2 separate regions of the Homo sapiens genome follow, and region 2 is linked to region 1. A link means that fine-mapping ties the variant in region 1 to the expression of a gene that starts in the linked region. Tissue or cell type: prefrontal cortex. Region 1 holds a variant in brackets; the other region holds the start of a gene. All regions are shown on one strand. Distances are from middle to middle.

What was found. PIP is the estimated chance that this variant, and not a neighbour inherited with it, causes the effect.
Region 2: it holds the start of ZNF707, and the variant in region 1 is fine-mapped to the expression of ZNF707 in prefrontal cortex (ROSMAP, PIP 0.91).

Annotation. Positions count from the first base shown.
Region 1 is chr8:143,478,365-143,481,116 of GRCh38, reverse strand. The region is part of intron 4 of ZC3H3 (zinc finger CCCH-type containing 3); the gene reads left to right. Among named protein-coding and RNA genes, the nearest start is that of SNORD149, 27 kb to the left of the region's middle. RefSeq lists an enhancer at 1,534-2,034. The variant C/T (reference allele first, on the strand shown) is at 1,042.
Region 2 is chr8:143,683,269-143,686,020 of GRCh38, reverse strand. ZNF707 (zinc finger protein 707) reads right to left here and starts at 1,542. Exons shown (of 6, transcript NM_001100598.2): 1 at 1,479-1,542.

The DNA.
Region 1 (2,752 bases):
GCCTTGGAAGACCCTGTTGAACAAGCCACAGAGCCTCAGGGAGGGTGTCCTGGGCAGCATGTGTCTGAAGGTGCTGTGGGACTGGGCAATCGGAAGATACAGCTTTTGGGCTTAAAAGCTGCCTGTCTGTGGCCTGGACCCTCGGGTCCCACCAGTGTGTGTCCCGCCGGGGCATCCTGGGTGCTGGGCTGCTTCCCGGGTCTCTAGGGTGGAGGAGGCCTCCCCCAGTCCCCTTACCACCTCTGCCTGAGTCAAGAGACCGGGCCCCTTCCCCAGCCTTCCTGCCATGCCAGTGTGCCAGTCACGCTGACTACCAGGCCCAGCATTCTCTGATTGGTCTCAGAGCTGGGTCGCATGGCACGGAGACACCGCAGGCAGTGCCCATGGCAGGGAGCAGGACCTGAAAGGGCCCGGGTGCTCAGAGGGCTGGACTCACCCGAGGAGCCGCATTGGTTTGTCAGATGTGTTTCTGCTGAGCTGGGGCTTCTGCTGCTGGGAGCGCAAGTGCTGAGGCTGTCACCCTGGGGGCAGGCAGTGCACTGGGCCTGCTTGCTGTGCATGCACTGCCCTGACTGCGAGGCCACTGATCTGGGCCACGTGTATGTGTGCATCTGTGCCCAGGATCAATGACGTGGCCTGGGGTGAGGCCCCTCTCAGCCTGCACGGCCCACATGACATGGCGCGGGGGCTGCTCTGACCTGCCACGGGCAGTGCCCTCGGAGTGGGTAGAGTGTGGGTGTCCAGGGTTGGTCCTCAGAGTCCTTGCATGGGCCACTTGGCAGCAGTGGCCCAGGCCAGGGCTTGCAGGCCCGGGAGCCTGGCAGCTGGCAGGCTGTGCGTGGGCATGCCTTGTGGATGCCGGCAGGGGATGCACCAGGTTTGCCCCTGGGCTTTCAGGAAAACCAAGACCTCAGAGTGAGCCTCTCTCCCATCTTGCCCAGGCCCCCAGCACCACTGAAGTCCTGGGGACAGGTGACAGGAGTCCCTGAGGGTCGAGAGCCAGAGGTCCGCCCGGCCCCCACTGTTGCTACCTGTGCCTAG[C/T]GAGGCTGGCAGCACTCAGCAGGTCCGAGGGGCCCAGGCTGAGGCAGGACAGGGGCTTTCAGAGACAGGAGGGCCTGGGCTCAGCCCTCTGGGCACCTGTGGTGCCCCTCGCCAGCCCGGGCAGCCTCTGGCCTGCAAGTTTCCAGCTACTCCTAAGGCAGTACTGCACAGACAGCTTCTTCATACACCTGCTTTTGTAGTGTGTGTGTCTTTCTCCCCATTACTGCTGCTTTTCATTTAAAATGTTATCTCCCCCTCCTGGCCTTTGTCCCCCCCCAGGGAGGAGAGGGGAGGCCCAGCCTCGCCCTGGTGTAGTCAAGGTTATGGTGATAAATCCTGGGGCATTGTCACTTCTGTTCGGAGTAAATTGGCTGGCTGCTTTTGGGCTGAAGGAAAGATAATTTGCTGTAGTATTTCAAATGGATTAGAAATGGATTTGAAGGGAAAGTTCATGCCTCCCATTACAAAGGCGAGAAAGAAGACTATCTTAAGGCACTGTTCCCTCCCTGGCCTTCATTATCCACGCTTAATACCTTTCCTATTTTCCAGCGTTAATGAAATTTCCTGGCAGCGTGGGCCTGCCGGACGGATGGGAGAGGCCTTTAGATCTGCAGCTCCCGTTGCGGAAAAGGAATTACAGAGCCTTCCGTGAGGGCAGACGCGCGCTCCGGGTCCTTGGCCCTGCTATTATCTCATTAATTTCATCCCCCTTCTCAATGCAGTTCGTTTCCAAAGGCCATCCTCTCCATTAGGGTCACAATTTACTGGAGTGCTGTGACACCCACGGCCGTGAAAAGCTACAAGGCCCTCGCCCCATGCCCTCCCAGCACCCTCCTGCTGTAGGTTCCAAAGCCAGCCAGGCAGCCAGGGCGAGGGCAGGGGTGAGGGCAACCCTAGACAGCTCTCCGTCACCCCCGCCAACCTGCACAGGCCCGACGTTCTGCCACAGCATCTTCCCAGGATGCAGCTTCTCGGAATGAGGCTCTTGGGCTAGGTGTGCTGAGCACCAGGAAGCGCCCTGCCCCATTCCCGGGAGGCCCTGGGCTCCCAGGCTATGGTGGGCAGTGGGGGGCTGGGAACATTCCCAAGCATGAAGAGCGGGCGCAGATCCCGGGACGGCTCAGCAGGGGCTGCCACATCTCCATTCCGCCCAGATCCTCTAATGTCCTCTGGGTGTTCTCACACTCCAGTAAGGTGTTTTTTTTAGGAGGGAAGAGAAGGGGACAAGCTAATTGTTCATGTTCATCCATGAGAATGAGCAGGGGCGGCTGGGCGCAGTGGCTCATGCCTGTAATCCCGGCACTTTGGGAGGCCAAGGCCGTCAGATCACCTGAGGTCAGGAGTTCGAGACCAGCTTGGCCAATGGGGTGAAACACCATCTCTACCAAAAATACAAAAATTAGCCGGGCGTGTTGGCACATGCCTGTAATCCCAGCTACTCTGGAGGCTGAGGCAGGAGAACCTCTTGAACCCGGGAGGCGGAGGTTGCAGTGAGCCGAGATCGCACCATTGCACTCTAGCCTGGGTCACAAGAGCAAAACTCCATCTCAAAAAAACAAAAAAATAAGAAGGAGCGGGGGCATGGCTGCTGTAGTGCCCAGCCAGGCCGAGGTCCTGAAACAGAGCTGAGGGGCGGCCCTGGTGGGTGGGGCGGTCCTGGAAGCTTCCAGTGCCTGCTGACCCCCAGAGGCCCTGATGCCTCTGCCCCACG
Region 2 (2,752 bases), 200 kb before region 1:
CAGAGTCAGGGAGAACCGTGAGATAGGCCAGGAAAGGGGCTAAAGCCAGATTCCTCAAGGCCTCCTGAGCCGTGGTTTCATGTGTAATGCAACAAAGTTTAATACGGGAGAACAGAAGGATATTGTCATAGCTACTTTTTTTCCCCTAGGCAAATTAACACAGGATTTTTTTTTCTCTGAGGCAGGTCCTTGCTCTGTCACCCAGGCTGGAATGCAGTAGTGCAATCACAGCTCACTGCAGCCTCGACCTCCTGGGCTCAAGTGATCCTCCCACCTCAGTCTCCCCAGTAGCTGGGACCAAAAGCGCATGTGCCAACATGCCCTGCAATTGTTTTAAGTTTTTTGCAGAAACGGGGTCTCACTATGTTGCCAAGACTGATCTCAAACTCCTGGCCTCAAGAGATCCTCTGGCCTCAGCCTCCCCAAGTGCTGGGGTTACAGGCGTCAGCCACAGCATCCGGCCTAAGCTACCTTTTTTTTTTTTTTTTTTTTAATAAGATGATGTCTCGCTCTGTCGCCCAGGCTGGAGTGCAGTGGCGCGATCTCTGCTCACTGCAACCTCTGCCTCTTGGGTTCAAACGATTCTCTTGCCTCAGCCTCCCCAGAGTAACTGGGATTACAGGCGTGCACCACCACACCCGGCTAATTTTTGTATTTTTTGTAGAGACAAGGTTTCAACATGCTGACCAAGCTGGTCTAGAACTCCTGGACTCAAGTGATCCACCTGCCTCGGCCTCCCAAGAGCTGAGATTACAGGCGGGAGCCACCTTGCCTGGCTAAGCTACATTTTATAAAAGATCCTCTGTGATGAACAAATGAGAAAGCAGCAAAACAGGATGGGGGTGGGGAGAAGACAGGGAGGCGTTCAGGTGAGAGAGGAAGACGGCCAGGATTGGGACTTACAGGGTGGGAATGGCAAGGAGGCAAATGGTTCAGTTATGGAGCTAACGCACCAGTGACTGTGTGGCTGGGCGTGGGCAGGAAAGGAGAAGAAGCGAATCTCGGGTTTCTGCCTCCTCCCCTTCGCGGTGGAATGCCTGGGAGGACCAGAGGGTGGGGTGTGGAGGTTGCAGGAGCTCAGCCTGGGGCCGGGGAGCTTTGGGTGTTATGAATCAAGTCTAAGCGCTCGGGTCTCATCGGAGCGATAGGGCTGGAGACACAGGTGTGGAAAGTGTCTATGAGGGATAACTAAGGTCACGATCGCGGACGGGGTCGGCCAGGAAGAAACCAGCTTCAAGAGGATACGCAACCGGGTCCTGACAAACCTGCAAGTGTAAGGAGCGAGGAGAGAAGAGGAGGCCGAGCCGGAAGAAGCTGAAGAACAGCCCCCGAATAGCCGAGGGCACGGGCAGCCTCCCCGGTCTGTCCCAGCAGCCGCGACGCTGGGTCTCACAGCCCTGGGGCGGCCGCAGAATTAGAAGGTTTGACAGCCCACGACCCAGGGACGGAGGGGCGGCGGGGGACACGGGCGCACTCACCACAGGGGCGTCCTCCACTAGGATGCTGCATCCACTACGCCGCGCCGGTAGCCCAGACTTTTACAAACTTCCCGAGCGGAAGTTGTTATCCGAAAGCTTCCGGCCCCTCTAGGAGCCCACGTCTCGGTGGTGCGCGCTGGCCTTCCAGGCCGTCCAGGCCGCCCGCCTCGCCCCGCACCGCTTGTGGTTCCGCCGCAGCCGGCAGGCCCCGCCCCGGTCACAGCCAAGCGCCACGACGCCCGGCTGATTTTTTTGTAATTTTAGTAGAGACGGGGGTTTCATCATGTTGGTCAGGCTGGTTTTGAACTCCTGACCTCAGGTGATCCGCCTGACTTGGCCTCCCAAAGTGCTGGGGTTACAGGCGTGAACCACCGATCCCGGCCCTCATAACCTAAAGTCGGCCTAAAGGTTTATCCTACAAAGTGAACTGTAACCTAACTGGAGGTGTGAACAGACTGTCACTTGCTCTCCTGCCAGTCACCCAGTTCCAGCCAATCAAGGGTGTAGGGTCCAGCCCTGCGGGGCTAAGCGGGTGTTGTCCCCGTGTGCGGAGATGAGAGATTGTAATAAATAAAGACACAAGACAAAGAGATAAAGAGAAAACAGCTGGGCCCGGGCGACCACTACCATCAAGACGCAGAGACCGGTAGTGGCCCCAAACGGCTGGGCGCGCTGATATTTATTGCATACAAGACAAGGGGCCAGGGTAAGGAGGGTGAATCTTCTAAGTGATTGACAAGGTGAAGCAAGTCACATGATTACAGGACAGGGGGCCCTTCCCTCTTAGGTAGCGGAAGCAGAGAGAGAAGGCAGCATAAGTTAGCATTAATCAAAGACTTTAAGACTTTCACTATTTCTTCTACCGCTATCGACTACGAACTTCAAAGAGGAACCAGGAGTACAGGAGGAACACGAAAGTGGACAAGGAGCGTGAACATTGAAGCACCACAGGGAGGGGTTTAGGCCTCCGGATGACTGCGGCCAGGCCTGGGTAATATCCAACCTCCCACAAGAAGCTGGTGGAGCAGAGTGTTCCCTGACTCCTCCAAGGAAAGGAGACTCCCTTTCGCAGTCTACTAAGCAACGGGTGACTTCCCAGACACTGGCGTTAGGGCTTGACCAAGGAGCCCTCAAGCAGCCCTGATGTGGGAGTGACAGAAGGCTCACCTCTTGCCTTCTAGGTCACTTCTCACCATGTCCCTTCAGCACCCGACCCTATATCCGCCGGTTATTCCTAGGTTATATTAGTAATGCAACAAAGAGTAATGGTAAAA